Regions from separate parts of the Homo sapiens genome. Here region 1 is linked to region 2. The links come from fine-mapping of genetic effects on gene expression. A gene starts in region 2. The other region holds a variant in brackets. All regions are shown on one strand. Distances are between the middles of the regions.

What was found. PIP is the estimated chance that this variant, and not a neighbour inherited with it, causes the effect.
Region 1: its variant is the best candidate, but not a certain one, in a credible set for the expression of FAM161B in anterior cingulate cortex (GTEx, PIP 0.55).

Annotation. Positions count from the first base shown.
Region 1 is chr14:74,271,353-74,276,728 of GRCh38, forward strand. No RefSeq gene overlaps it. Among named protein-coding and RNA genes, the nearest start is that of ABCD4, 29 kb to the right of the region's middle. The variant G/A (reference allele first, on the strand shown) is at 3,225.
Region 2 is chr14:73,946,917-73,952,257 of GRCh38, forward strand. FAM161B (FAM161 centrosomal protein B) reads right to left here and starts at 3,178. Exons shown (of 9, transcript NM_152445.3): 1 at 3,057-3,178. The coding sequence starts at 3,110. It overlaps COQ6 (coenzyme Q6, monooxygenase), which reads left to right and starts at 3,386. Exons shown (of 12, transcript NM_182476.3): 1 at 3,386-3,579. The coding sequence starts at 3,417. RefSeq lists enhancers at 3,068-4,068, 3,085-3,144 and a silencer at 5,138-5,341.

The DNA.
Region 1 (5,376 bases), 320 kb after region 2:
TGGCTCACACCTGTAATCCTAGCACTTTGGGAGGCCAAAGTGGGTGGATCACTTGAGCCTTGGAGTTTGAGAGAAGCCTGAGCAACATAGCAAAACTCCAAATCCACAAAAAATACAAAATTACAAAATCACTTGAACCTAGGAGGTTGAAGCTGCAGTAAGTCATGATTGCACCACTGTACTCCAGCCTGGGCAACATAGCAAGACCCCATCTCATAAATAAATAAAATGCAAGTGCTAGTCAACCTTCTGACTCTGACTGTCATACCTGGGATTCCCTTTCTTGTTTCCTATTCCAGTCATGCGTGAAACTTGTTTTTGTTATATTTTGTTCACCTCTAGATGTTCTTAATCAGAATTGTTTACCAGCCCACTCCACCATTGTCCTAGAAGCTCCTTTGTAAACTATAAAGGGCTGTGAAATGGGAACAACATGTTACCACTCAAGCCTTTGGCTTCTTGGTATCCTTCCCTATGGCTGGTGGTCACTGCCCCACTCAGTTCCCTGTTGGGACATTTCCCCCGGTCCTGACGTCAGTTATCTTTTTGGATTTGTTTTGCCTGGTTCTTATCAATCCCTTCTGGCCAAGAGGCTTCCGTAAACGCTCTGGGGTCTCTGAACCAAACATTTAGCCTCCCTGGGCCATGGTTCTGCGTCTCTCCTGTAACTGGCACCTTCCTCTTCATCTCTGCCCTCTGCCTTTAGAAGCGTCAAGTAAGCATTGGAGGAGCGAGCGAGTGAGTGGTTAGGCAGAGAGACAATGAAAATTTTTTTTTTGTTTGAGACAGAGTCTCGCTCTGTTGCCCAGGATGGAGTGCAGTGGCGCGATCTCGGCTCACTGCAGCCTCTGCCTCCCAGGTTCAAGCGCCCAGCCGAAAATATTAAATGTATTTTCTTCCAGTCTTTTGTTCCAGGCTAGGTGCAATGATAGCTGGAAGAATGAAAGTTCTCCCAAAGGCACATAGACCATACAGTTGGTAGGATAGTCAGGGAGTCAGGTAGAAATAAAGGGAAGGACTCTTTTAGTAGTACTTTAAAAAATACTTGCCGGGTGCAGTGGCTTACACCTGTAATCCCAGCACTTTGTGAGGCTGAGGCAGGAGGATCAGTTGAGGTCAGGAGTTCAAGACCAGCCTGGTCAACGTGGTGAAACCCCGTCTCTATTAAAAATAAAAAAATTAGTTGAGCGTAGTGGCGCATGCCTGTAATTCCAGCTACTCGGGAGGCTGAAGTAGGAGAATCCCTGGAACCTAGGAGGTGGAGGCTGCAGGGAGCCAAGATGGTGCCACTGCACTCCAGCCTGGGAGACGGAGCAAGACTCTTATCTCAACACCAACAACAACAACACAAAACTCTTAGCCGGGGGTGGTGGCTCACGCCTATAATCCCAGCACTTTGGGCGGCCAAGGCGGGCAGATCCCCTGAAGTTGGGAGTTCCAGACCAGCCTGACCAACATGGAGAAACCCTGTCTCTACTAAAAATGCAAAATTAGCCAGGTGTGGTGGCGCATGCCTGTAATCCCAGCTACTCGGGAGGCTGAGGCAGGAGAATTGCTTGAACCCAGGAGGTGGAGGTTGTGGTGAGCCAAGATCACGCCATTGCACTCCAGCCTGGGCAACAAGAGTGAAACTCCGCCTCAAGACAAAAACAAAAACAAATCCAGTTCACTACATTTTATTATTCACTCTGTATCTCTACTATTACTTTTTTTTTTTTTTGAGATAGGGTCTTCCTCTGTCACCTGGAGTGCAGTGGTGTGATCATGGCTCACTGTGGCCTCAGCCTCCTGGGTTCAAGTGATCCTCTCACCTCAGCCTCCCAAGCACCTGGGACTACAGACGTGCACCACCATGCCCAGATAATATTTTTTAATTTTTTTATAGAGACAGGGTCTCACTATGTTGCCCAGGCTGGTCTCAAACTCCTGGGCTCAAGTGATCCTCCTACCTTGGCCTCCCAAAGTGCTGGGATTACAGGCATAACCCCCGCTTGCCTGGCCTATTTTTGCATTTTTTTCTAAACCATTTGATAGTAAGTTGGGGACATGATACCCCATTACCACTTAATACTTCTGTGTATATTTCCTTAAAATGAGGATACTCTCCCACACAACCAAATACGACTAACAAAATCAAGAAATTGACATTGATTTGTCCAGAAGGGTGTTAAATACTATCAACTAGTCCACAGAACCCTGATCATTCCAAAAACGTCCTTTATCAACTGTGATCTGATCCAGGACTGCACGCTGAATTGAGTGACCCAGTCTCTGTAGTCTCCTCCAATCCATAACTGCCTTCTGTGACCTTGACGTTCTTGATGATTTCTGGCCAGTTACTTTATAGAATGTCCTCAATTTGGGTTTTGATATTTCCTCATAAGACTCAGGTTGCATACCTGAATCTGCATTTTTGGAGAAAATTCCATGGAACTGGTTCTCCATTCTCAGTGCATCATATCAGGAAGCACACCATGTTGTTCCATTCCTGGTGATGTTAATGTTTATCATTCGATTAAGATGGTACCTGCTAGCCAGGTGCAGTGGCTCATGTGCCTGTGATCCCAGGACTTTGGGAGGCCAAGGAGGGGCATATGGCTTGAGCTCGAGAATTCAAGACCAGCCTGGGCAACATGGCAAAACTCTGTCTCTACAAAAAATACAAAAATTAGCTGGGTGCAGTGATGTGTGCCTGTAGTCCCAGCTTCTCGGGAGGCTGAGGCAGGAGAATCGCTTGAGCCCAGGAGGGGGAGGTTGCAGTGAGCCAAGATTGTGTCATTGCACTCTAACCTGGGCAATGGGAGTGAAACCCTGTCTCAAAACCAAAACCAAAACAAAAAAAGATAGTACCTGCAGGTTTTTCCATTGTAAAGTTAATGAGTATCATGTACTTATTAACAAGTATTTTGTGGGATGATGCTTTGAGACTATATAAATATCTTATTCCTCATCAAACTTTAATCCACTACTTTTAACATCTGTTGGTTCCTCTTGTCTGGCTTTTTAGTGGAGAATGGTATTTAGGTACCAAAATCTAGGCACAAGGTATGCTTACTGTTATTGTGGTACAGTTGCTTCTAGGCCTTCTCAGGGGACAGAGTTGGGAAAACACACTGTATAGTGCTTACAGGTGCACTTTATTATTCTTTTTAAATTTTTTAAAATGTTACTATTTTTTTGAGACAGTCTCTTGTACTGCTCAGGCTGTAGTGCAGTGGTGGGAT[G/A]AGGCTTACTGCAGCCTCAACCTCCCAGGCTCAAGTGATCCTCTCACCTCAGCCCTGCCAAGTAGCTGGGACTACAGGTGTGTGCCACCACACCCAGCTAATTTTAAAATTTTTTGTAGGAAAAGAAAAATATTTAAATTTTTTGTAGCTCAATATGTTGCCCAGACTAGTCTTGAACTCTTGGCCTCAAGCAATCCTCCTGTCTTAGCCTCCCAAAGTGCTGGGATTACAGGCATGAGCCACTGTGCCCGGCCACAGATGCATTTTGAATATCCTGGCATGAAAGACTTCCCAGACCCCTTTTCTCTGACTGGAGGGGTCCAGGGTACTTTGATGTCCCCAAGCACATGTAGCTAATACCTCACTCACACCCCTGGAATGAACCTTTGAAATAAGCAAGAATTAGGCTTTCTCTAGTTTCAAGTCCAGCCTGCCCCCCACTATAAGCCACACACCCTTGCACTAGCTACTGCTTTTGTAAATGGGTTTGGGACAGTTTTTAATAAAGGCAGCATGTGCTAGAACCCTAACCAACGATTTATCAACATGGACACTAGACTGTCTACTCTTCTAAGTGCTAGGGGTATAGCAGTAGCAGTCTAGATTTCAAACACAATCAACTTACAGTGGGGGTGGGGGGTATAGTTATTCCAGAAAACCTAGGCTAAAGCCAGATGCTGCAATAGACAGTAGGATTTGGTTTTGATCCTCCCAGGAGACTGGGTGAAGTGGAAGCATGCTGATGACTTAGCATACTTCCAACTGAGTGCTGAGTAACAGAAGGCAGAGCTATCAGCCAGAGAGCATTCTGGGCTTCTGCCTATATTAGTCCGTGACTGCATAGTGGATGTGTGTCCAGAGTTAACCATAGCCCTGTGAGGCCACTGGCTGCATGTGGCTCCCTGGCCGTGGTACATCAGGATTAGAGGGGTGTGATGATGGCCACCCCCGTCTGTAACTAAAGGGAAACCAGACTCCTCTGGTGGTTCTATCTGCCTGGTGGGGTGCAGAGAGGGCTGTGGTTGAGCTTGGTGGCATGGTGCCAGGTCCCCTGGGACAGCACCATCTTTTCCACTGGAAGGGGGAGACAGATGGTAGGAGGAGTGTACTCTGTGGCTATGCTAGGAATGGAAAGTGCTCACCCACCTGACCACCCCTGGCAAAGCTGGGGGCCAGGCCCACTCTTCTCTGGAAGCTGCGGTTTGGCTAGCGAGTAGGGACAGATGTCAAGAATGTGGACAGACTGGCTGGGCGCAGTGGCTCACACCTGTAATCCCAGCACTTTGGGAGGCCGAGGTGAGCGGATCACTTGAGGTGAGGAGTTCAAGACCAGCCTGGCCAACATAGCGAAACCCCATCTCTACTAAAAACACAAAAATTAGCTGGGTGTGGTGGCGCCTGCCTGTAATCCCAGCTACTTGGGAGGCTGAGGTGAGAGAATCGCATGAACCCGGGAGGTGGATGTTGCAGTGAGCCAAGATCATGCCACTGCACTCCAGCCTGAATAATAGAGTGAGACTCTGTATCAAAAAAAAAAAAAATTACAGGAAGAATGTGGGCAGACAGAGTGAGCAGTGTGTGAGAAGACACCCTGGGCTGGGAGGACTGGCGTCAGGGAGAGGCCCTGGGGTACCTCCTGAGCAGAAGGGCAAGGGTGATCCATGTGTCCCTAGATGGGGAGGGCCTCCCCCAGACTCTCTAGGCCTGCCTTGGGGGAGCCGGTCAGACCATTTTGTTTTTTTTTTTTTTGAGACGGAGTTTTGCTTTTGTTGCCCAGGCTGGAGTGCAATGGCGAGATCTCGGCTCACCACAATCTCCACCTCCCGAACTCCCGACCTCAGGTGATTTGCCTGCCTCAGCCTCCCAAAGTGCTGGAATTACAGGCATGAGCCACTGCGCCCGGCTGGTCAGACATTTATTGAGAGCTCCCTATGCCTGAGGCTCCTTGCTAGCCCCATGTTTGACGACCAGGTCTGCTGCTGCCAGGACAGCTAGAGTGGGGCTGGAGTTTGGGGTATAGAAGTGGGCAAGGGCAGACACGGGAGCCTAGACCCCTGCAGGGGTGCCACAGGAGGGTAGCATGGGAGGAAAGGCCAGGCCTCTGACTCCACTGCTCACTCACCTGTCCCAGCGCCATCTCCTCATTCTGGGC
Region 2 (5,341 bases):
ACCTCACCTACACCAGGCTTTCTGACCCCTGCACTCCAGGAATCCTGCCCATGATGATGGCCACACTCTCCCTTACTTGGGTTTTAACCTACTTCTTGCTCATCTTCCTTCTCTCCCTTCCCTTATTTCTACTCCTCTGCTTTCCTCATGTTCTAGCTAATTTGCACTCTGTCAAGGAATGGATGATGGCTGGGTGCAGTGGCTCATGCCTGTAATCCCAGCATTTTGGGAGGCCGAGGGAGGTGGATCACCTGAGGTCAGGAGTTCAAGACCAGCTTGACCAACATGGTGAAATCCCGTCTCTACAAAAATACAAAAATTAGTTGGGCGTGGTGGCGGGTGCCTGTAATCTCAGCTACTGGGGAGGCTGAGGCAGGAGAATCGCTTGAACCCGGGAGGCGGAGGTGGCAGTGAGATGAGATTGCGCCACTGCACTCCAGCCTGGGCAACAAGAGTGATGCTCCGTCTCAAAAAAAAAAAAAAAAAAAGGAATGGATGATTAACAAGACAGACAGTATGGTCTGGCTGGAAGAGCAATGTCTTAAGAAGTGGGACACACAATTAACTTTTTCAGTACTCCATTCATTCATAAAATATTTACTGGGTGCCTGATGTGCACTGGGCATTTGGCTGAGAACAAGACAAACAAGGTCCTTACTCTCATGAAGCTTACACTGTAGTAAGAGGAGACAGACAATATAAGATGATGATAAATTCTGTGAAAACCATAAACAACTGTGAGGTTATAAAAAGATGGAGTGCCTATGGAAAGCTTTTTGGTTGATAAAGTCCATCAGATTAAGGTTATTAGGAATGTACTTGTAATCAGTACATCAGTTAGGCTTATTAACTTGCTGCAGGACACTACGGAAAACCACAGGGAACTTAGGGTTGAGGGTGTGATTTTTATAGGGTTGGCTTCCCTGATTGATTCAGGGAACCAGGTATCAACTCTGGAATGGTGCTGTCATGAAGTGGGGACAATTTAGTTAAGCGAATGACTGAGCAATTTTTTTTTTTTGAGACAGGTTCTTGCTCTGTCACCCAGGTTCTGGAGTGCAGTGGTGCAATCATGCCTCACTGCAGCCTGAACCTCCTGAGCTCAGGTGATGATCCTCCCACCTCAGCCTCCCGAGTAGCTGGGACTACAGCACACACCATCACACCTGGCTAGTTTTTGTATTTTTTGTACAGATGGGGTTTCACCATGCTTCCCAGGCTGGTCTCCAACTCCTGAGCTCAAATGATCCGCCTGCCTTGGCCTCCCAAAGTGCTGGGATTACAGGCGTGAGCCATTGGGCCCCGCCCAACGGCAATACTTATTCAAAAGGTGAGAAGAATAAAGTAGGGTGGGTAAGTAATTGATCAGTAAGCCTTTTGGAAGAAGGGGTGTTAGTAATTTTGCACCTATGTTATGGCCCTGAGAGAAACACTGTTTCCTGATGCTCTTGCCGTTGGCATTATCTATGCCTATGACAGTCTGAGTTATACTTTCTCAGTCCTGGGCTGATTTTTATTTTTCATTGTGGAGGAATTTTGAATTGACACTTGATTGATGAGGAGCCAGGCTTACTAAAATCCAGGGTAAGAGTCAGAGATATGTATGCACCCTAGCCCTGGCTCTGCTACAGTGTGTGATCTTGGGCACGTTTTTTCTTTTCTTTTAAAGACAACTTTATTAAGACATAATTTCTATACAATATATTCACTCATTTAAAGTGTACAATTCAGTGGTTTTAGTATATACACAGAGTTGTGCAACTACCATCACAATTTTAGAACACCTTCATCGCCCTTAAAAGAAATGCCACACGCTTTAGTGGTCACTCCCTATTTCCCCTAACCCTCCACACCCCACCCCACCAGCCCTAAGCAACTGCCAATCTACTTTTTGCCTTTAATAGTTTGGGGTCCACCAGGTGCACTGGCTCACGCCTGTAATCCCAGCACTTTGGGAGGCCTTGGCTGGTGGATCACTGGAGGCACGCGCCACCACACCTGGCTAATTTTTTTTTTTTTTTGAGACGGAGTCTCGCTCTGTCGCCAGGCTAGAGTGCAGTGGTGCAATCTTGGCTCACTGCAACCTCCACCTCCCGGGTTCAAGTGATTCTCCTGCCTCAGCCTCCCGAGTAGCTAGGACTACAGGCGCGCACCACCATGCCCAGATAATTTTTTGTATTTTTTTGTTTGTTTGTTTTTGTTTTTGAGAGAGTTTTGCTCTTGTTGCCCAGGCTGGAGTGCAATGGCACAATCTCGGCTCACTGCAACCTCCACCTCCCAGGTTCAAGCAATTCTCTTGCCTCAGCCTCCCGAGTAGCTGGGATTACAGGCATGTGCCACCACGTCCAGCTAATTTTGTATTTTTTTTAGTAGAGACAGGGTTTCTCCATGTTGGTCAGGCTGGTCTTGAACTCCTGACCTCAGGTCCCAAAGTGCTGCATTACAGGAGTAAGCCACCGCACCCGGCCAATTTTTGTATTTTTAGTAGAGACGGGGTTTTGCCATGGAAACCAGCCTGGTCTCGATCTCTTGACCTCATGATCCGCTTTCCTTGGCCTCCCAAAGTGCTGGGATTACAGGCGTGAGCCAGCGCGCCTGGCCAATTTTTTTTTTTTTTTTAAATTTTTAGACGGAGTTTCACCATGTTGGCCAGGCTGGTCTCGAACTCCTGACCTCAGGTGATCCACCCGCCTCGGCCTCCCAAAGTGCTAGGATTACAGGCGTGAACCACCACGCCCGGCCAAATTTGGGGAGCAATTTTCTTAATCTCTTTGTGCCTCAGTTTTCTCTTCTACAAAAATGAGACGACAATTGTACTACTGGTCATAGAGTACTAAGAGGATAAGCGAAAACTGAGTGACATTGCCTATCAAGAGCCTCGTATAAAGTCCGAGAGGTTCAGGTCTGTAAGTCAGAGTCCGCCTCCTGGTCCCTAAACGCTCATTTTAATCCCACGCCCCTCCGTGACACGCCCCTGCTGTCTGTCTCCAAGGCAACGCCCAACAGTTTCCTCTCCGGGATTCCTTTCCCGGGGGCAGTCTCTTTTCTCTCCTCACCTGACGGCTCCCCTCCGCGCCTCCGGGGGCTCCCTCAGGCCTCCCCACGGTCATTTCAGCTGGACAGAGGCAGCAGCGACAGTGACAGCGATAGTGGCAGCAGCGGTGGCAGCGAGAGCTATGCGGGGCCAGGGTCCACCCCTTTCTAGCTTTGGCGTCTGGTTGGCTTCCAGGGCAGCCTCCGATCCATCCCGCCCGAGGAGGCAAGGTTCGTTTTCCGATTGGCCTATTTTCTCCGCGCATTTTATTTCCGGTTCTGAGGACGCCGCGGAAGCGGGACGGGATTGGAGTGCTCTGCTCCGGACGCACTACGTAGGTGGGCCTGCGGGAGTTCTGAGTGCGACGGCGCAGGTCTGCACCATGGCGGCCCGGCTTGTCAGCCGATGCGGGGCTGTGCGTGCAGCTCCCCACAGCGGCCCGCTGGTGTCCTGGCGCAGGTGGTCCGGCGCCTCAACAGACACCGTGTATGACGTGGTGGTGTCGGGTGGAGGCCTGGTGGGCGCTGCCATGGCCTGTGCCTTGGGTAAGCCCTTCTCCAGGCTACTAGTGGCCGGAAACCGGGCCGCGGAGGCACGATGAGAGCCGTGAGAGCCCTAGCACGACTTGCCCAAAGACAATTTCTCAGGTCTCGCGACGCTTCTCCCCTCCCCTCCTAGAGGAACCCCAGGGCACGCCGGAATGCGTGTGGTCCTTCAGGGTCCATTAGGGTCAAAAGTGGGAGGGGCGTTCAGAGTCTGTTCTACTCATGGGAAAACAGGCCTTCCCGGGGTTATTTATAAATGAGAGTTCCAGTTTCTCCAGATCCTGGACAGTACTTGTCATTGTCTTTTTGTTTATAGACATTCTAGTGGGTGTAAGTAAAGTGGGATCTCCAGGTTTTGACTTGTATTTCCCTAATGATTAATGATGTTGAATATCCTTTCATATGTTTATTGGTCATTTGTATATCTTCTTTAGAGAAATGCCTATTCAGACCCTTTGCCCGGTTTTTAATTGAGCAGTTTGTCTCTTGAATACTGTGGTAAGAGTTATTTTTATTTTTTGAGACAGGGTCTTCCGCTGTGCCCAGGCTGCAGTGCAGTGGCACGATCACGGCTCACTGTAGCCTCAACCTCCCTGGCTGAATTGATCCTCCTGCCTCTGCCTCCCAAATAGCTGGGACTGCAGGAATGCGCCACCACTCGGCTGATTTTTGTATTTTTTTGTAGAGACGAGGTCTCACTATGTTGCCCAGGCTGGTCTGGAACTTCTGGGCTCAAGCAATCCACCTGCCTCAGCCTCCCAAAGTGCTGGGATTACCGGCATAAGCAACCCTGCCTGGCCATTATTTTGTTTATTCTGTATAAGTCCCTTATCTGATAAATGACTTGCAAATATTTTCTTCCATTTTGTAGTCTTTTCACTTTTTTTTTTTTCCCTGAGATGGAGTTTCGCTCTTGTTGCCCAGGATGGAGTACAATGGCACGATCTCAGCTCACTGCAACCTCTGGGATTACAGGCTTGTGCCACCATGCCTGGCTAATTTTTGTATTTTTAGTAGAGACGGGGTTTCACCATATTGGCCAGGCTGGTCTCGAACTCCTGATCTCGTGATCCACCTGCCCCTTCCTCCCAAAGTGCTGGGATTACAGGCATGAATCACCATGCTTGGCCCATTATGAGATTTTTTTTTTGTGATTTTTTTTTTTTTTTTAGCTCATCAGCTATCATTAATATTAGTGTTTTTTTATATGTGACCCAAGACAATTCTTCCACTGTGGCCTGGGGAAGCCAAAAGATTGGACACCCTGATCTAAGGGCAGCTGTTCCACCCTATGATCCTCATCTCACAAGATACACAAAATTTAACTTAAAGCAGATCATAGACTTCTGTAACAGGGTGGTTCTCATGGCTGCTTGGGAGGCTGAGGCAGGAGAATCGCTTGAAACTGGAAGGGGGAGGTTGCAGTGAGCTGAGATCGCGCCACTGCACTCCAGCCTGGGCAACAAGAGCGAAACTCGATATCTCAAAAAAAAAAAAAAAAAAAAAAGAAGATAGTGCCCTTTACAGAGCATGCTCTACAGAGCATGTCCCTGTGCCCCATCCTCCACAGCAAAAGCTGCCAAGATGGACCGCTCACTGTCTGTATGGCTGGAGCTAACTTTTTTTTTTTTTTTTTTTTTTTTTGAGACAGAGTCTCTGCTCTGTCACCCAGGCTGGAGTGCAGTGGCAGGATCCCAGCTCACTGCAACCTCTGCCTCCCAGGTTCCAGTGATTCTCCTGCCTCAGCCTTCTGAGGAGCTGG